Homo sapiens: one gene and its partners. The protein of the gene in region 2 interacts with the protein of the main gene of each other region in a pairwise test. Each region holds a gene or a part of one and is shown on either strand. Other genes may lie near its edges.

The links.
Region 1: the proteins of RCC1 (region 2) and CSAD interact in a two-hybrid assay, tested with the Homo sapiens proteins (one large-scale study listed by BioGRID and IntAct).
Region 3: the proteins of RCC1 (region 2) and ZNF135 interact in a two-hybrid assay, tested with the Homo sapiens proteins (one large-scale study listed by BioGRID and IntAct).
Region 4: the proteins of RCC1 (region 2) and HOXD8 interact in a two-hybrid assay, tested with the Homo sapiens proteins (one large-scale study listed by BioGRID and IntAct).
Region 5: the proteins of RCC1 (region 2) and DYNC1I1 interact in a two-hybrid assay, tested with the Homo sapiens proteins (one large-scale study listed by BioGRID and IntAct).

Annotation. Positions count from the first base shown.
Region 1 is NC_000012.12:53,157,006-53,160,582, forward strand, and holds the end of CSAD (cysteine sulfinic acid decarboxylase), read right to left. Parts: intron 3,315-3,577; coding exon 3,115-3,314; intron 2,934-3,114; coding exon 2,882-2,933; intron 2,708-2,881; coding exon 2,618-2,707; intron 1,680-2,617; coding exon 1,506-1,679; 3' UTR 658-1,505; downstream 1-657. UniProt on the Homo sapiens protein: Catalyzes the decarboxylation of L-aspartate, 3-sulfino-L-alanine (cysteine sulfinic acid), and L-cysteate to beta-alanine, hypotaurine and taurine, respectively. The preferred substrate is 3-sulfino-L-alanine.
Region 2 is NC_000001.11:28,522,958-28,526,652, reverse strand, and holds part of RCC1 (regulator of chromosome condensation), read right to left. Parts: intron 296-3,695; exon of another isoform or gene 40-295; intron 1-39. UniProt on the Homo sapiens protein: Guanine-nucleotide releasing factor that promotes the exchange of Ran-bound GDP by GTP, and thereby plays an important role in RAN-mediated functions in nuclear import and mitosis.
Region 3 is NC_000019.10:58,065,591-58,069,285, reverse strand, and holds part of ZNF135 (zinc finger protein 135), read right to left. Parts: intron 2,582-3,695; coding exon of another isoform or gene 2,546-2,581; coding exon 825-2,545; 3' UTR 1-824. UniProt on the Homo sapiens protein: Plays a role in the regulation of cell morphology and cytoskeletal organization. May be involved in transcriptional regulation.
Region 4 is NC_000002.12:176,128,145-176,132,639, reverse strand, and holds the start of HOXD8 (homeobox protein Hox-D8), read right to left. Parts: upstream 2,936-4,495; 5' UTR 2,274-2,935; coding exon 1,697-2,273; intron 1,324-1,696; coding exon 1,028-1,323; 3' UTR 1-1,027. UniProt on the Homo sapiens protein: Sequence-specific transcription factor which is part of a developmental regulatory system that provides cells with specific positional identities on the anterior-posterior axis.
Region 5 is NC_000007.14:96,030,939-96,034,633, reverse strand, and holds part of DYNC1I1 (cytoplasmic dynein 1 intermediate chain 1), read right to left. Parts: intron 1,968-3,695; coding exon 1,854-1,967; intron 1,553-1,853; exon of another isoform or gene 1,475-1,552; intron 1-1,474. UniProt on the Homo sapiens protein: Acts as one of several non-catalytic accessory components of the cytoplasmic dynein 1 complex that are thought to be involved in linking dynein to cargos and to adapter proteins that regulate dynein function.

The DNA of each region.
Region 1 (3,577 bases), on a different chromosome or scaffold from region 2:
GTTACTCAGGCTGGAGTGCTGATGCAATCACAGCTCACTGCAGCCTCAACCTCCTGGGCCCAAGCAATCTTACCACCTCCTCTGAGACAGCTGAGACCACAGGTGTGCACCATCATGTCTGGCTAATTTTAAAAAATTTTTCTTTTTTTAGAGATGGGGTCTTGCTATGTTGCCCAGGCTGGTCTTGAACTCCCAGACTCAAGCGATTCTCCCACATCAGCCTCACAAAGTGCTAGGATTATAGGCATGAGCCACCACACCTGGCCACATCTTGTTTAAAAAAAAAAATAAAGATCCTCATTATTTGATTGAATGTTTTGTTTTGCTTCGTTTTTTGAGACAGAGTCTCGCTCTGTCGCCCAGGCTAAGGTGCGATGGCGTGATCTCAGCTCACTGCAAGCTCCGCTTCCTGGGTTCAAGCGATTCTCCCACCTTAACCTTCCGAGTAGCTGGGATTACAGGCGCCAGCCATCATGCCTGGCTAATTTTTGTATTTTTAGTAGAGACGGAGTTTCACCATGTTGGCCAGGCTGGTCTCGAACTCCTGACCTCAGGTGATCCACCCGCCTCGGCCTCCCAAAGTGCTGGGATTACAGGCGTGAGCCACTGTGCTCGGCCGGTTGAATGTTAATAAATTTTAAAAACATACCAAAAGAATGCAGTTGAAATTTTAACTTTATTATTTTCCTATTACAAAAGCAACACATATTCATTACATAATAAAAGGGAGGGAGCTCAAAAGATATAAAGAAGTCTATGTTTTTTTTGTTTGTTTGTTTTTTTAAAGGAGTCTGTTTTAAAATTGCCTATTATCCTATTCCAGGGAAAACTATTAACATTTTGCCATATTTCATTTTATCAGTCTTTTCCTATGTATTTTTGAACACAGCTCAAATATTACTCTATATAAAGACTTGTATTCAGCTTTTTCAACATAAATTACATTAAAGTTATTTTTATGTCAATAAAAATTATCTTTGTAAACAAAATTTTAATGGCAAAATAACATTTCATCATATAGACATACTGTAATTTATTTAAACACTCTCCTAAAATCAAATATTTAGTTAGGAGAAAGTTAGTAGGTCAAAGCATATAAACATTGCGCAGGTCACTGTGGCCTAAAAAGGCTGTTCTTTTTTATTTTTTTTGGAACAGAGTCTCGTACTGTTGCCCAGCCTGGAGTGCAGGGGTGCAATCTCGGCTCACTGCAACCTCTGCCCCCTGGGTTCAAGCAATTCTGCCCCAACCTCCTGAGTAGCTGGGTTTACAGGCACAGGCCACCATGCTCGGCTAATTTTTGTATTTTTAGTAGAGACAGGGTTTCACCTTATTGGCCAGGCTGGTCTCGAACTCCTGACCTCAAGTGATCCACCCGCCTCGGCCTCCCAAAGTGCTGGGATTACAGGCGTGAGCCACTGCACCCGGCCTCAAAGGCTGGGAGGGAATGCAGTGACTCTGCGGGTGAGGGGTGGTATCAAGGCCGGCAGCAAGACAGAGAAGGCTCACAGGTCCTGGCCTAGCCGCTCCAGCTCGTTGAGGAGGAAGTCCATATCAGCACAGGTCAGTGCAGAGTTGGCCACAACCACACGGAAGAAGTTGCCCCGGGTCCCGTGGGGCTGGTAGCCAATCATCATGGAGCCCTCCTTCACCATGCGCTCCTTGAGCACGGGGGCCACCTGTGGAAGGGTGGAGAGAGATTCCAGCTGCAGCCTGGGTCGGCTGACAGGTAGGCTGGCTTCTTGTCCTGCCAGGCTTCCAGAGGTGCTTTTCCTTCCCACCCAGCCACCTTCTGGGGGTAGCACACCTTGCTCAGACCTTGACCTTGGCCTCAGTTTACCTTTCTGTCATATCTAACCTGCTTGGCCTTCGCTATCTTCTGCTTTTCTCCCCATTTCTCCTGTCTCCAAGAAATCTGTCCTGTGGGACATTTTCTGCCAAATCTTGACTTTCTCTTGATTCCTAACACTGCTTTAGTCTAACTTCAAGCCTTGGTCATCTAAGCCTTAGTCAACACCTTCTTCTCCCCTCTCTTAATTCCTGTAATATTTTTGATAATATTAATCTGTGCCCTGTGATCTAGCAAGTAATTTACAACACTGCCTTGAACACATTGCTTCCAAGTAGGTAACTCTTGCCTTATAATAACAACTCCATAAGGGCAAGAACATTTGTCCTTTCAGATCATCTGCAGCACCTAGTACCACTCTATCTTTAGGGACCAGGATATAACACAGCTCCTCGCCTCCAGATGGCACTTCTAGACTGGCTTTCTCGGGTTGCTGTGTCCCTAGCACGGGTAATAAGGCTTTTCCATGATCATTCTGCCTCATATCTGTCCTGGGCCTGAGTTCCCAGCCCAATTGCCAGCACAAGGCTCTGTGTACTACACACTGGTGACTTCTCTGACTTCTCCTGTAACACACGTCGCTGCTTCTTACTTCCCAGAAACATACCTTCCTCCCCATCCCCACCCCTACCGAAAAGAGAGCATCCACGCCTCAGAGCAAGAGACCAGCAAGGAGACCTGCCATGCCACTCCCAGCCAACAGGGGGCAGAAGCGCATCAGTTGCATCAGCTCCCTAACGGGTAAAGAGAGCAGCACAGCACGCCTACCTTTGACAGCCTTTCGTGGTAATCTGGACTCTCCTGCTTCCCTCGCAGGCTGGGGGGTACGAACCAGAAACACACATTGACAAACTCAGGCTGAGAGGAATGAGAAAGAGGAAGGTGTGAGCTGAGAAAGGGGGACCGTTTTCCCTCTCCCTGCCCCTTTCCCCTCTCCCTGCCCTTTTCCCTCCACTAGGGCTTTAGTTGGGGCTTGGGGGCTGCAAAAGAGCTAGGCTGGGGCAGGGGCCACAAAATAGAAAGGGGTCCTACCTCCATGACTAGCTCAAACCCTTCCCGCTTCTTCATTTCCTCCACCAGGTACCTGTGAACAGAGAGTGAGAAACCATAGGCGGGGAGGAAAAGCAGAGATCCAGACAGAAGAGGCCCACGTAGAATGAGCCACAGAGAGACCGAGAGAAAAGTAATCCCGGGAGCAGGAAAGAGGGAGGGGCATGGACCCAGGAGAGGGGAACAGGGACGACCCCCCACCTCCTCCCGCCTACCGGGCAAGGACAAAGGCCTGGTCGATGCGCCGCTCCAGCCCTTGATCGCCCTGTGCCTTCCACATGAGCCACAGCTTCAGACAGTCCACACGGCGGCCACACTGCACCACCTTGTCTCCCGTGTCCAGAGCCACATCGTAGAACTTGTCCTGCTGGAAAAGGTAGCTGGCCTGGGACCCATGGCAGCGCTTGAGCAGGTTCTGTGTGGGGGTGAGGAGATTGTCAGACCCTACCCTCTCCACCGAGGCTTTCCTCCAGGGCTGCACTGTGGGGGTCTTAGCTCAGGATACCCTCTTCTTTCCCTGGAGCCAGATGGCACTGCTGGGACGGCTGCCTGCTGGCTCCAACACCTTTCTTTGGGTTTCCTCCCAATACCCAGGGTTCTTCCCAAACTCTGATGGCAACCTCAAGCTAGAAACTCCAGGATACCTCTGACTCCAACTTCAAGCTGGAAACTTTTCTT
Region 2 (3,695 bases):
AAGTGCTGGGATTACAGGTGTGAGCCACCGCGCCCAGCCCTATCCTTTGGATTTCACCTTTGTGTGTCCTACAGAAATTGTTGCTTCTAGTGACAAAGCTAAGGAATTTCACGATGTGAACTTTGAAGTTGTTGCAGTCTCAGTGGATTCCCACTTTAGCCGTCTTGCCTGGATAAATACACCAAGAAAGAATGGTGCTTTGGGCCACATAAACATCGCACCCTTGTCAGATTTAACTAAGCGAATTTCTCGAGACTTCGGTGTGCTGTTAGAAGGTCCTGGTCTTGCACTAAGAGGTCTCTTCATAATTGACCCCAATGGAGTCATCAAGTACTTGTTTTTGTTTGTTTGTTTGTTTGTTTTTTTGAGACAGCATCTCACTCTCTGTTGCCCAGGCTCAAGTGCAGTGGCACAATCACGGCTCATTGCAGGTTTGACCTCTTGAGCTCAGGTGATCCTCCCACCTCAGCCTCTAGAATAGCTGGGACTACAAGTGCGCATCACAGTGTCCAGCTAATTTTTATATATTTTGTAGAGACAGGGTTTTGCCAAGTTGCCCAGGCTGGTCTAGAACTCCTGGGCTCAAGCGATCTACCCGCCTCAGCCTCCCAAAGTGCTGGGATTACAACAGCTGTGAGCCACCATGCCCGGCCGGAGCCACAGTCTTTAAGGTCATGAAAAACAATCAAGTTGTCTAAGCCTCTACCTAATGTTACGAAGGGAAGGAGAACTCCAAGAGCCCTTCTCGGTCTCAGCTCTGGGCCTAACCAGCAGCCCCCTCATTCCTTCCTTCTAGTGGTTCCCGAGAACCTCGCCTCTCTAGCTCTCCCCTCCATGGTATATGGACACAAGGCCAGGCACTTTTCTGCTGATTATCCTGGGGAAGGAGAACTAAATACTAAAGATGGGAAAGTAACCAAAGGTCTAGAATCCTGATAAGCCTTTGCAGGCTGAGCTTCTGCAGGTTGTCACTGGCCCAGTTCTGACTGATGAGGTGGCAGTTCTGAACTTCACCCAACTTTTATTCTCCCAGGGCTGAGAATCCTCCCACCTGTCTTTTGAGACCCCTTGTCCCACACTAAAAAGTGCACATTCTTTGGGATTAGAGGGAACTGGGTTCACCTTCCAGAGCTTGTGGCTGGCCAGTTGCCTTAACCTCTCTGAACTGTATCCTCATCTATAAAAGGGGATGCAATGACTACTTCTCAGGGCTGTCATCAAGACTGAATGAAATGGTTGTAAATCCACAAATATTTATAGTGCTTTACTACTAAGGGAGGAGACCACCCCTCATATTGTCTTATGCCCAATTTCTGCCTCCAAAGAAGTAAAAACTAAAAGGCAGAAATGAAATCCACAGGCAGACAGCCTGGCGCCGCGACCTGTGTCTGGTTAAAGATCGACCCCTGACCTAACCGGTTATGTTATCTATAGATTCCAGACATCGTATGGAAAAGCACTGTGAAAATCCCTGTCCTGTTCTGTTCCGTTCTGATAACCAGTGCATGCAGCCCCCAGTCACATATCCCCTGCTTGCTCAATCAATCACGACCTCTTCATGCAGACCCCCTTAGAGTTGTAAGCCCTTAAAAGGGACAGGAACTGCTCACTCGGGGAGCTCAGTTTTTGGAGACGTGAATCTTGCCAAAGCTCCCAGCTGAATAAAGCCCTTCCTTCTTTAACTGGGTGTCTGGGGGGTTTTGTCTGCGGCTTATCCTGCTACACTACTGCTTGGCTTTGGGTGAGGAGGTGTAGCAAGGATAAAGGAGACTAACCCTTTTTTACTCTCATAATTTGTTCATCCTTTGTATTTATTTTTGAGACAGGGTCCTGCCCAGACTTGAGTGCAGTGGCATGGTCATGGCTCACTGCAGCCTCAACCACCCGGGCTTGAGCCATCCTGGATAGCTGGGACTACAGGTGTGCACCACCACGCCCGGCTAATTTTTGTATATTTTGCAGAAACAACGTCTTGCCATGTTGCCCAGGCTGGTCCCGAACTCCTGGGCTCAAGCGATTCTCTAGCCTTGGACTCCCAAAGTGCTGGGATTATAGGTGTAAGCCACCATGCCTGGCCTTTTATTTTATTTTTTTAAGAGAGGGGGTCTCACTCTGTCACCTAGGCTGGAGTGCAGTGGTGCAATTAGCTTATTGCAGCCTCGAACTCATGGACTCAAGCGATCTTCCCACCTCAGCTTCCCAAGAGCCTGGGATCATGGGCACGTGCCACAGCACTTGGCTTGATTTGTTCATCCTAAAAAAGTCCAGAGGATTCTTGGCAGGCCTGCCCAAGATCCCCCTATGAGCTTGGCCAAACACAAAGACTCCCAGGCTTGGGCTTAAATGACCAGGTAGATGGTAGACTTCCATGTAGTGAGATAGAGAACACTGTTGAACAAACAGGAGAGAAGAGACGTGAAGCTCCATGTTGCTAGGTGTTTTCATTCAATCTGAAGTGCTTGGGAGCCATCCCAGAAAGGATGTCAGGCAGGCAAAGTTAGATGGGGTAGGGATGTGGGATATAAGAGGCATCTTTGTGGCCGGGCACGGTGGCTCACGCCTGTAATCCCAGCAGATTGGGAGGCCAAGGCGGGTGGATCACCTGAGGTCAGGAGTTCGAGACCAGCCTGACCAACGTGGAGGAACCCCATCTCTACTAAAAATACAAAATTAGCCAGGCGTGGTGACGCGTGCTGTAATCCCAGCTACTCGGGAGGCTGAGGCAGGAGAATCGCTTGAACCCAGGAAGTGGAGGTTGTGGTAAGCCGAGTTTGCACCATTGCACTCCAGCCTGGGCAACAAGAGTGAAACTCTGTCCCTCCACCAAAAAAAGAGGCACCCTTGTTTTAGATAGACAGCTGTATGCCAAGGCAAACATCTCATCAGTTCATCAGAATAATCTGTAGCAGTCTGCTGTGCCTGGGAGGGAGACTGTATTAGCATGAAAAGTACTCACAATAAGAAGTCAGGAGAAAAAGCAGGAAACAATTATGTCAGCACAGTTGGTGCTGATGGCTGGGCTGCCATGAGCACAGCCCGGAATGGAGTCAGACACATAAGGGCTATATGAAGTGTTGGTGTCATGGGGCATTAACCAAAAAATCTGTTATCATGGATGGAACAAACCCAGTCAACATCTCCTTAGTTGTGTTTGGCTAATATTCTGGAGCGTTTCACTACAAGCTGGCCACAATGATCCCACTCTACAGAGAAGAAAACTGAGGCTCAGAAAGGTGAAGTATCTCACTCAAGATTGGAAGAGAAGGCCAAGATCTGAACCAAGTTAGTCAGACTCCAGAGCTGGCGTCCTTGAGTGTTATTAGAAATTTCTTCTGGCCGGGCGCGGTGGCTCACGCCTGTAATCCCAGCACTTTGGGAGGCCGAGGCGGGCGGATCATGAGGTCAGGAGATCGAGACCACGGTGAAACCCCGTCTCTACTAAAAATACAAAAAATTAGACAGGCGTGGTGGCGGGCGCTTGTAGTCCTAGCTACTCGGGAGGCTGAGGCAGGAAAATGGCGTGAACCCGGGAGGCAGAGCTTGCAGTGAGTCGAGATCACGCCACTGCACTCCAGCCTGGGTGACAGAGCAAGACTCCGTCTCAAAAAAAAAAAAAAAAAAAAAAGAAATTTCTTCTGCCTCCTTCCTCCCCATGCTCCCTAGTAGTCTCTCAGCTTGCCTGGAACTGTGTCTCC
Region 3 (3,695 bases), on a different chromosome or scaffold from region 2:
AGAGCAGCAAAAGCCATCTCAGAATCAGTGAGACTCTACGGAAGCAGCTTTACATTTTGAGTCTTCCCATACAAAGCTTTTCAATCTCATTGCATATAAAGATTAATTGCAAAAATAATGCAGGGATAACTAAAAACCTGTTTATAGTACACTGATACTTTGTCATATGTAATTCCAATCTGTGACTGGCTGCCATGTACCCTGATCAAACAATATACACACAGACAAGACAGCTGTTTACTGAGACAGTCAGTATCCACAGTGATTCCATAAAGATGCCACTCTCATTTCTGGAACACTCTGCCATACTGTCATTTGGGAATGAATATCAGAGTCAACCTGCACCATTCATAAGCACTTTCCCCCCCAAAAATGTGATGTGCAATAATGGCAAATTCTGACTTCATTTGGTTCTCGTATATATGAAAGGCATTTGTTGGGTTTCTCACCAATTTGAACATCTCTGGTTTGGAATACGGTGAATCCTTGGACAAAAGCGTTCCCTGGATCCACTACATTTGTTCCATTTCTTTTTTGTAGGTTCTATAACATAGCACTAATGGGCGTTCAAGGCTGAAGGTCCTGAGTGTTGATTATCTCCACGTTTCCCTACTATTTGGATGCAGAGATGGATGACCTAGAGCTTGGTGGTCCCATGGTCATTTCCCATCAGTGTGAACTCTCTGAGGGTGTCTGAGGGGAGTGCTGTGTGAAAAGGCTTGTGTATGAATGTACGTTTCTCATGTGTATGATTGGGTCAAATCTAGAAAGGGATGAGCTATGGCTTAAGGTCTTCCTATGTCCCCAGCACATGTGGAGTGGGTTTATCCAGTGTGAGTTCTCTGGTGCTTGGTAAGGGAGGAGCTGTGGGTAAAGGCCTTTCCACAGTCCCTGCATGCATATGGCTTCTCTCCTGTGTGGATCCTCCGGTGCTGAGTGAGGTGGGTGCTCTGCCTAAAGGACTTTCCGCAATCGTGACACTCATAGGGCTTTTCCCCAGTGTGCGTCCTTTCGTGCTGGCTGAGCGAGGAGCTGTGGCTGAAGGATTTCCCACACTCATTGCACCCATACGGCTTTTCCTTGGTGTGAATCCTCTGGTGTTCGATGAGAAGGGAGCTCTGGCTGAAGGCTCTGCCACACTGGTTACATTCATAGGGTTTCTCTCCTGTGTGGATCCTCTGATGCTGAATGAGGGGAGCAAGCTGGCTGAAGGCTCTGCCACACTGGTTGCATTCGTAGGGCTTCTCCCCAGTGTGGATTCGCTGATGTTTGGTGAGGGACGAGCTGTGACTGAATGCCTTGCCGCAGTCATTGCATTCATAGGGCTTCTCCCCTGTGTGGATTCGCTGGTGTTGGGTGAGGTGTGTGCTCTGCCGGAAGGCCTTCCCACACTGACTGCACTCATAGGGCTTCTCTCCTGTGTGTGTCCGCTCATGCTGGCTGAGTGAGGAGCTGTGGCTGAAGGTTTTCCCACACTCGTTGCATCCATAGGGCTTCTCTCCTGTGTGAATCCTCCGATGCTCGGTCAGGAGTGTGCTCTGACTGAAGGCTTTCCCACACTCACCACACTCATAGGGCTTTTCTCCTGTGTGGGTCCTCTGGTGCTGAATCAGTGGTGTGATCTGGGTGAAGGCTTTTCCACACTCATGGCACTCGTAGGGCTTCTCCCCTGTGTGGATTCGCTGGTGTTTGGTCAAGGATGAGCTGTGGCTGAAGGCCTTGCCACACTCACCACACTGATAGGGTTTCTCCCCAGTGTGGATTCGCAGATGCTGGGTGAGGTGGATGCTTTGCCGGAAGGCTTTCCCACACTCACTGCACTCGTAGGGCTTCTCGCCTGTGTGAGTTCGCTCGTGCTGGCTGAAGGAGGACCTAAAACTGAAGGATTTCCCACATTCGCTGCATTCATAGGGCTTCTCACCTGTGTGAGTTCTCTGGTGCTGGATCAGTGGGGCAATTTGGTTGAAGGTCCTCCCACACTGAGTGCATTTATAGGGTTTCTCCCCAGTATGGATTCTCTGGTGTTTGGTAAGTGCCGAGCTGTTCCGGAAGCCTTTTAAGCATTCGTGACATTCGTAAGGTCTCTCTCCTGTGTGCGTCCGGTGGTGTTCGATAAGTGCTGAGCTGTGACTAAAGGCCTTTCCGCATTCCTGACATTTGTAGGGTTTCTCTTTTACACAGGTTTTCTGTAAAACATTTAGGTCTGGCTTCTCCCTTTTTCCACGTGTTCCCCATGTGTGGGGGCTTTGTCTTTCAGGAGTCATTGGTTGATGTGGGAGATCAGGGTTCAGACTTATGTTTTCCCCAAACCCATTCCTCTGCCACTGCTCCAGAACAGGCGTCTTCACAGGCGTGAAGGCCACCGGCACTGCCAGGCTCTCTAGACTCTCACAACTCCATTCCCAGTGGCCCTCAGTGTCCTCACCCCTGCAGTACCACAGACCATCCCACAGGAATCTTTCTACCAAGATGACACTGTTGGATATTTCTTCAGAGATGCCTTGCTTTAGAACTGACAGTTTGACTTTGGGTCTAGTTTCCAAGTCTGAAAGAAGCAAAAACTGGAAATGTCCCTTAATCTCTGTTCCACGGCAAAAGAGTTTGTGGTGAGATGGGAAGAGGAAGGATAAAACTAATTATTTTGAAACGTTCAAGGTTCAAGTGGCTTTGACCATTTAAAAATATAGTTTTGCAAACCAGGAAAGGAAGAGAGGGAAACACAGAATAAGGAAGAGGAAAATAAGGAATAAGGAAAGGAAGAGGAAAGAACAGAATAAGGAAAGGAAGAGGAGAGGGAGGAAAAAACAGTTGGCACAAGGAGTATGAATGGAGTCTGTGAGGGGAGCACAGAGGAGGATGCAGAGCGGATGCCCAGGAGAGAGCACTCAGACACACAGAGGCACTGGACTTGGAAGGAGCAGTGTGGCACCCAGGCTCCAGCTACAGTGGCCTCCACAATGCCAGGTGGCAACAGAGAAAAACGTGCTGCATGGGGAAAGTTGGCTGATACCCAGCTTCTTCCCGACAGCATATGCTGTTGTGCCACCTCACTCTAGATGTAAAGGAACCTAACTGCTCCCCACAAACAGGAATAGCTGCAATGTACATCACTAAGAGGAAGAAAAATGACCCGTGGCATATTAGAGTGCTTTGGTCTGCCTTATTTTGTCCATTTCACTAACTGGGAACCCCTTGAGGGTAGGGGTTTCCGTCCACCTTGCTTACCACTGTATCTATAGCCCACAGCAAGAGCTCAATATACATGCTTAATGAATGAACAAATGCATTCCCTCCTCCTCCTTCATGGCAGGACTCTCTTTTTGCCCTGGTACCCAGCCCTCTCTGCACAGCCATGACCTGGGTGTGTGCTGCCCCTACCCTGACCCCACAGTGGCCTAGAGGTGTGATGTGGGCACCTTCCCCATATTGTTATGTTTCAGTGAAAAGTTCAATTAAAAAAAAAAAAGTTAAGCCAGAGTGAATGGCAGAATAGTGGCTTCCCAAGATGCCCACATCCTAACCCTATAACCTGTATGTTTCCAATTACATGGGAGGGAGGAATTAAGGTTGCTAATCAGCTAACATTAAGATAGAGAAATTACACTGGATTATCTGGGTGGACCTGTGTAATCACGAGGGTCCTTAAATGGGGAAAAAAGGCAGAAGGGTCAGAGTCAGAGTGAATATGATGTGAC
Region 4 (4,495 bases), on a different chromosome or scaffold from region 2:
CACTCAGGTTTTTCTGCGTTTCCTCTCAGGGCTTGTTTCAAATAGGTGAGGCTATCGCTTTCCTGAAGAACAGCGGAGGACGTACCAACCGACGTCTGAGATGCACACAGCAAGCTGGTTTAAAACCAGCGGCGAACAGAACAAAGGCAATACAAATAAATATGACACCTACTGAAAATAACGGAACACAGCGGCAGCCACCGCATAAAGAACTAGCGATTTCAGGCGATTACAAGGGCGGTTCAAAACGAAAGCAAGTTAAAAAATGAGACGCATTTTACAAGGCGATTTGCCAGAGTTGCCAGATTATTTAATTTGTATGGACTATAGAAAAATAATTGTCAACTTGGACATTGTCTTTAAATTCTTGTCACTGGCCCAATCTTTTTCTTAAGTTTAAGGAAGCTGCAGAGCTGGACTACAAGTTACATTCTTCAGCTAATACGTGCTTTTCTAATATTTTCCCCGAGATATTACATTTAGAAAATACGCAAAGAAACCTTTTAGGAGTAAACAAAACGCACCCGAACTATTCATTATAAAGGAAAGAATAAAAAATCCATAAATAATACATTGTAATCAAATAATATAAAGTATTCTGCAGACATAATTTTTTTTAATTAATAAACTCCTTTTAATTTACTCACCACAAATATTAAAATGTTCAAGTGCACTTGTTTAATTAATAAAGCATTTTATATGCAATTATTAAGTGCTAATCATTAGGAAGTTTACGTTGTTGAGGCAAATCACTAGCTCAGACATTAAAAACCATTATAAAAATATAGCTACAAGGTCAGTATCAAATTACCCTTCCATAGGACAGCTCAAGGACAGCTTCTATGTGATACTAGAAACTTTTTTAAACACCCAAATCCCTCTCAAAGCACAGAAAACCTCAAGAGCAGTGACATGAAGGTAGCTTGAAACACAGGTAAGGTCCTTTCCAACAAAGAAAATAGGTGGTGTCCACAGCATATGGTGATTATTAGTTTTAATAGTCTGTGGTAAATTTTAAAGGTAGAAGTTAATTTGTCAGGCCTTCGGCTCTGTCTTCCTCCAGCTCTTGGGCTTCCTTTTTCGTTTCCCCGTCCTTCACCTCCTGCCGGGAAACGGGAAATTTGTCCTTGTTGTTTTCCTTTTTCCATTTCATTCTCCTGTTCTGGAACCAGATTTTTACCTGTCTCTCGGTGAGGGCTAGGGCGTGGGAAACCTCGATTCTTCTTTTCCTGGTCAGATAGGGGTTAAAAAGAAATTCCTTTTCCAACTCTAGAGTTTGGAAGCGACTGTAGGTTTGTCTTCCTCTTCGTCTACCAGGAGCTGCTGATTAAAACAAAAAAAAAGGGGGGGGGAATAAAAGTTTTAAAAATGTTATGGTACCTCTGCATGTTGCTGGAGGTTTGTGGAACGGGGGTCTACGGGGTGAAATATACACAGAGCTCTTTAGCTCCGATATATATATATAGGGTGTGCAGGCAAGAGGAGCAGAGAGGTCTTCACAATTATTCTGTCCCCATCATCTTTACATGGTTCCTACTTTTTTAAAAAAAGTCTGTATTACTTTATGAATAAGAGCCACTGTGGCTACACAAGAAGGAAAAGGAGGGGGAGAGGGAACGGGAGTTTTAAAGCCAGAACGTGAGATGAAAGCAGATTTCTCCCCCTCTCCCTTCTTAAAAAAAAAATGCATCCCAACCTTGTGGTCTCATCCACGGAAACATTTGAGAAGGAGACGAGCTCTGATTTAAGTGGTCTGGGTCCTCGCCAATATTACCACTGGACGATTTACAGTCAGGATATTGTACCAGCTCGGCCTCTTGCTGGGTCGTAAAAATCGGCTGTCTCTGTAAGTTATCGTATCCGTAAAACTTCGCGGGCTCCCCGTGACAGGCAATCCCGCCGCAGGGGGGAGGTGGCGGCGGAGGCGGAGGATGCGGAGGAGGAGGGGGGGCGGCCTGGTAGGCAGCGGCCGGGCTGCCCCCGCCGGGGTGGAAGTACTCCTGGCCCCGGCCTTCCCTACCGCCGCACCCAGTCCCGGAGGGCGGCGGGGACGGGTGCGGGTGCGCGTGCGCCTGCGGGGGCGCGTGCGGGAAGCCGGCGGCGCTGTTGCCATAGAGCTGCAGGGCTGCTGCGGCGGCGGCGTGACGGCCGCCGACCTCGGGCGCGAAGTGACAGTCGTAGTAAGTGGGATTGATGGCCTCGCCCGCCGCCGCCGCCGCCGCAGCCGCCGCCTTGTACTTGGAGTACAGCGGGTTCACGAAGTACGAACTCATTGGGGCGTCAGCGGCGGCGGCCCCGGGCGGGCGGGCGGCGCTAAGCAGCCAGAGAGCGAGCCTCGACTCGGCCGCACTGCCGCGGGGGCCTGTGGGGCGGCTGCTCTCGCCGCCGGGACCGCCGGGCTACGTCGCTGCTGCCGCCCGCCCGCGCTCGCGCGTCGCTTCTGAGGCCAGGCAGCCGCGGGCGCTCAGCTACTGGGCGCTCATGCCCGGCTCTTGCGCCCGCCGCCTCGGCTTCGCGCCGCCTCCCTCGCGGGTCGCGGGGCCTCGCCCAGCCCCCGCGCGCCGCCGCCCTCCCGGCCTTTCCCGGCGCGCCCCGGCTCGGCCGCAATATAATCGCCGACGCCCCAGGCGACCTGCCCCGCTGCCTCCACTGTTTCCTCTCAGGCACCAGTGACTGAGCGCACCCGGACAAGAAAAAAGTGCGCTCGGCCCACGGGGACACTCTGGCCTCGGTTTACAAACCCCGGCTCTGGAGGGAAAAGAAAAAAAACACCCTCTGCCCGCCGCCACCTCTTACCGCGCCCCCCCCGCGCCCCCCTCCCGCCAATCTCGCCCCCGCCGCCGAGGCTGCCGACCCGGTGCGCACCGGCGAGGCATTTTCGCACCACAGCACTGCACGGAAAGTCAGCGTGACGGGGACGAGGAGCCCCGCGGAGGGATCCGCGCGCAGTTCAGTCGCTACGGCCGACGGACGGAGCGCCGCGCCCGGCCCGAGATGCCTCCGCCGGCCTTAAAGGGGGCCCATAAAGACGCACTGCCAAGGGCTCCGTGTGCCCCGGGGCCGCGGGAATGCGGATCGCAGCCGGCAGGGAGGGGCCGCGGCGGAGCCTTAGACTTGGGGGAGCCAAGGAGGCCACTCCCAGGAGGCTGCGGAGCAAATGACTGCCTCCCCGAGCCCCTGGCTGCAAAAGCAGAGGTTGCCCGTGGCTTTTGCAGCTCTGGACACGCGGGTGCAGCCCAGGGAACGTGGACAAGAGGTGTTGACGGACCGGACCGTGCATTTGAGTTGGGGCATATCGAAGTGGTTTAATTAAAAGCCGCGAGTGTGGCCCCAGATCCTGGCGTTATCAAAGCAAATCAAAGCCTTTCTTTTCCAGCCGAGCGGGCCCTGTGGAAATGAGATGTACATTTACCCTTGACGCACCGCAAGCCTGGCCGAGGCTCTCAGGTTAATTGATATTTAATGGAAATCATGCCCATGAATATAGTTTCCATCATTTCACCCTTGATAGACGTCAGCCCTGGGCGCAGGGGGAGGCTGAAGAATGCAGGAGGGGGCATTAGGCTTGCTGAGAGAGTAAATAGAAGAGCGGACAGAAACGTTCTGAGGCGGGAAAAAGGGCTCGCGCTGGGGAGGGTGACATTTCCTCGGGCAGGACGCGGCTCCCGGGTCTCAGCCCCGGCGCGCAGCGAACCAGGGCCGGCTGCGGTTCCCGGAGGAGTGCGGAGGGCAGACGACCGCAAGTTCCCCCCAGGAGCCTCCCAGCCGGCGTTCAGATCGCGCCGGTTCCAGGCAGCTGCAGGCGGCCCATCTTATGCTAACGATCCTACTTCCTCCGCCAAGCCTGTGAAATTACTGCCGAGAGAGCGCGCAGGCCTCAAAGTTACGAATTTTTCCCAAAGCAGAGAAAGAGAAGGCTCAGCCTAGTTTGTGAGCAGAGATGAAGAAAAGTTGCCCGAGTCATGTGGCCCAGTCGAGTGTGAATCGACAAAATATTCCCGATTTTAGCAGCTCTCTCCAAAGCTGTCTGGCTTTACCCTACCAACCGCCTCCCCACACACTTCCTTTCCCTCTCTGCTCCCGTTTCAATGTCCAATAAATGCAATGGTTCTCTGTTGTGTGTGTGTGTTTTCCCCTCTCCTGCTCGGCCTTTCTCGTGGGCTCTTTGGGTGACTGAGCCCCGTTTCCTTCGGGATAGGTACAATGTCGTGAGGGCGCCAGGCCCACAGCCTTGGAAATAGACCTCCAAGGCGCCCCTGCTCAAGCTAAACGCACCACGCCGGCTTTCCACACCAAATGCAAATTTCCGAAAACCCCAGACGGCCTCAGAGATGCTGCAGGCTGGCGAGCGATTTCAGCTACCCCTAGCTCCTTGTGGGTTGGCCCAGCCTGCGAGCGCGATCCTGACTTGTGTCCGGGTGGACTGAAATATCATTTTTACAAATGGAGAAAATGAGATCGAGATGGACAGACATAGCAAGGTGATAATGTCCGA
Region 5 (3,695 bases), on a different chromosome or scaffold from region 2:
CATACAGATAACTGGATCATCCAATGATCTGCTTCATCACTAAAATTAGCAGCAAGGAAGGAAAAGTCCCTTTACCCATTTGGGAGAGAGAAAGACCAGGCCAACTGTTGGATGCCCCTATTCCTCCCTGCCATCCATGGAAGCCATGTCACGAAATCCTCCATCTTTGTATAGACACAGGAGTCTGTGAGCATGCTAAAACTAATACAAACGGACTTAGAGCCACCATATTACTGGTTTTAACCTAAATAAATATGTGTAATGAGCAAAATGGGCAATTAAAAATTCCTAAATAGTGGGCTTGCTCTTATGTCTGTTTATAATCTTCAGGCTTTTAAAAGAAAACAAAACATTGCTGAGAATTTTAAGACAAAGCCATAAAATACCAATCCCTCCAGCCCTCTATAATGTTAAAGATCAGCGAAAATAGTGGAACTTCAATTGTAAGCAGCTTATTAGCACTCTCTCCTTTTTCTCCCTAAAATTATTTTAAAAAAACGTAGTATTCTTTACATCCGTATTTTGTGGAGGCTTAAAGGAGGTTGGTTCTTCACAGTTTCCATATTTCCTTTTGTGTGTGTGCATGTGTGTGTGTATAATAATAATAATAATTATTTTTTTCAAGAGACAAAGTCTCACTCCGTCACCCAGACTGGAGTGCAGTGGTGTGATAATAGTTCACTGCAACCTCGAACTCCTGGGCTTAAGCAATCCTCCTGCCTGAGCCTCCCAAGGAACATGGACTACAGACATGTGCTAGCACACCCAGCTAACTTTTTAAGTTTTAGTAGAAAAAGGGTCTTGCTCTGTTGCCTAGGCTGGTCTTGAACTCCTAGGCTTAAATGATTCTCTCACCTCGGCCTCCCAAAGTGCTGGGATTACAAGTGTGAGCCACCGTGCCCTGTCTCCTTATGTACATTTTGAAACTTTAACTTCTTCTAAAATTGTGTGAGAGACATTCTAGGGTTTTTATCCTGGGAAAGAATATGGGAATGTTAACATTGAGAATTATCTCCTAGATATTGTTTTGCAGTTTTCTCCATGTTTCCTTACATTTTTGTCAAAGTCTATAACAATGACTTCTCTGTTGTTTTTGGTTGGAGGATAGTGAATACTGTTTTTTCACACAAAGAAATATGGAAAAAGCGTGTGTGTATGTGTTCATGTGTGTATGCGCATGTCTTGTGTGTTTGTCTACATATGCATATCTTGCAAGTTGCATTTAGTTGTCTCCCTTTGACAGCCTCTCCCACTTCTATTCCTTTGTTTGGTCCCCACTGTTGCAATCAGTATTGGTTTGCAGACTTTGGAACTTTTTCATTTTTGACTTCTCATTTACTGAGCAAGGAATGACAGGAGCCATACTAAAAAACATTCCAGAGGGGAAAACAGATGGTTTCTTCATACACACAGGCTGTTGTCTAGGCTACGGATACAAGCAAGGGCTTGGATTTCTGTTTTGCTGGGTTACCTTCCCTCCAATGCAAGTACCCATAAGGGATTGCTCTGCTGAGCTCCAACCTCGTCTGCATCTGTTCAACAATGCTGTAGGGTAAGTGCAATTCATACCATAGGCAACTTCCATAATTACTATGATTTAGAATGGATTATTTCATTTTCACTTGAAACTGACCTAAGGATTAATGTATTACAATAATTACATGATTTGTGGTAAAGGAAATGGGTTTTGGCTTCAAGAGAAGATTGCTGAAAGCAGGCCCCACTCTTTCAAGTGCATCCATTTGTTTTAGCTCCTCTAGGATGTGAGGGTTTGGCTTTTAGGAACTATGTTCCATTAAGTAGGTATCTCTTTTAACCAGGATGGTGTTATGTGTAGGGAAAAACAAACCCACCTGTGGAGTTGAGAGCATGTCCAGGCTCCAGGAACACATTTTGCCATCAGTGGAGACAGTGATGAGGTTATGAGCATTCTGGGTCCCAACAACATTTACACAGTACACGGGATGCTGCAAAAACATAAACAAAGAGGATCAGAGACAGATCCAAGAGGAAATGCTTACATTTGAGTGTCAAACACATTACTCTAAAACAAGGATTAAAGAGTAACATAATCCTACTATAATACAAGCGTCAGGTCATTTGCCGCTTTTGATTTGAACCTGATTTCTTTCTAAAAGCTCTGGCAGCAACACATAATAGTGGAAATACTTATAAAGCTTCACCTTGCTCAGTCAGAATGCAATGCAGTGGAACAGAAGGACGCTAGAACAAATGAGGTTTGATGGGGCAGAGGCAATGCAGGGAGGTGAATTTGAACTACTTGAATAAGTCTCCACCGCATAGTTTGGCTTCTAAGCTCAACAAGAGTGATGGAAAAAGACAGTCTTCAAAAGGGTAGAACTACTGACTTTTGGAAGGAATACATGTTACTAAATCTGGAGTTTAATGCATTATAGTCACAATGCCAAACATTTGTTAACATTCTTTATAAAAAGTGGTTAATATTCATAACCATTTTAATCTGGGGGAGAGATACTAGTGGTGAGATTATTGGCACAATGTACCTGGTGAGATAAAATTAGGTTCTTCTATGTTACTGCAAAATCTAGGATAATAATATATTTATTTTTCAAAATACCGTTTGCAGTAGTATAGAGGCTTAGATTTGGCCAGGGCATTGAGAAAGGTCATTTATACATCCCAGGAACCATACACAAGATGTTGTAACCCTCTGTCATACTCTAGTGGGTTATCCCACTCTGCAGAATTCTAAACGGTAGGCTAAAATCATTTGCAGCTGTGTATTAAACACAAAATGGAAGGTTACTATGAGCAGAACCTACAGCAATTTGGGTTAGATTTCAGGCAGTTCAGCCACCAGTGGCCAAACCACACTTACTTGGTGCTTCTTTGTGCAAATAGCTGACAGTATCAGTCTTACCCTTGGTGAGTTACTGTCCATAATACCTAGCCACAACTACAATGAAACAATATTTAATATTGGAAAGTTGCTATTGTATAAAGGATGGTTCCCAAACTATTATTATCATATAAACTGCTGGTCAGAAGGAGTGGTAATAATCATCTAATGTAGCTACTCATCTGCCTCAACCAAGAGGTGGTCCAAACTCTGCTTAAACACCTTCCTTAAAGGGCAGCCAGTTTTCGTAGTATCCTGGGGGAGTTTTTTCTTCCACTAATGGGGATAAAGAAAGTTCAAGGAGATACTTCCAGTGCAGTGCCCTGTGGGACCAAACCAAACTAATCAAGTCAAAACAGTACAGCTTTTTGAATATTTATAGATAGTTGTTCCCTGTTACTCCTCTCCCTGCCAAATCTTTTCTTACCCAGACTGTCACTAATTCCTTCATCTGTTCCTTGGGTACCTGGTTTTCAAAACCTTTCCTATCCTGGTGAATCTCTTTTGAAAATGCTGTATTTTGTCTGATTCCTCTTCCAGTGAGGTTCTGAGAATAAAACAGAACTGTCTACCTATATTCTGACCAGCAGAATATAGAAACCTGGGTAGCATTGAATTATCACTTCTCATGTGATAAAAAATATGCCTGCATTTAATGCATGCTAAGATTACATCTGCTTTTTTGACAATTATATCACCTCTTTCCCCCGTGCTGATGGACAGTCAGCTAAGTCCCTATGTCTTTCACACCATGTCCCTACTGAAACTTCCAAATGAGTCAGCCTTAGTGGATCTGCACATAGTAAGTACAGCA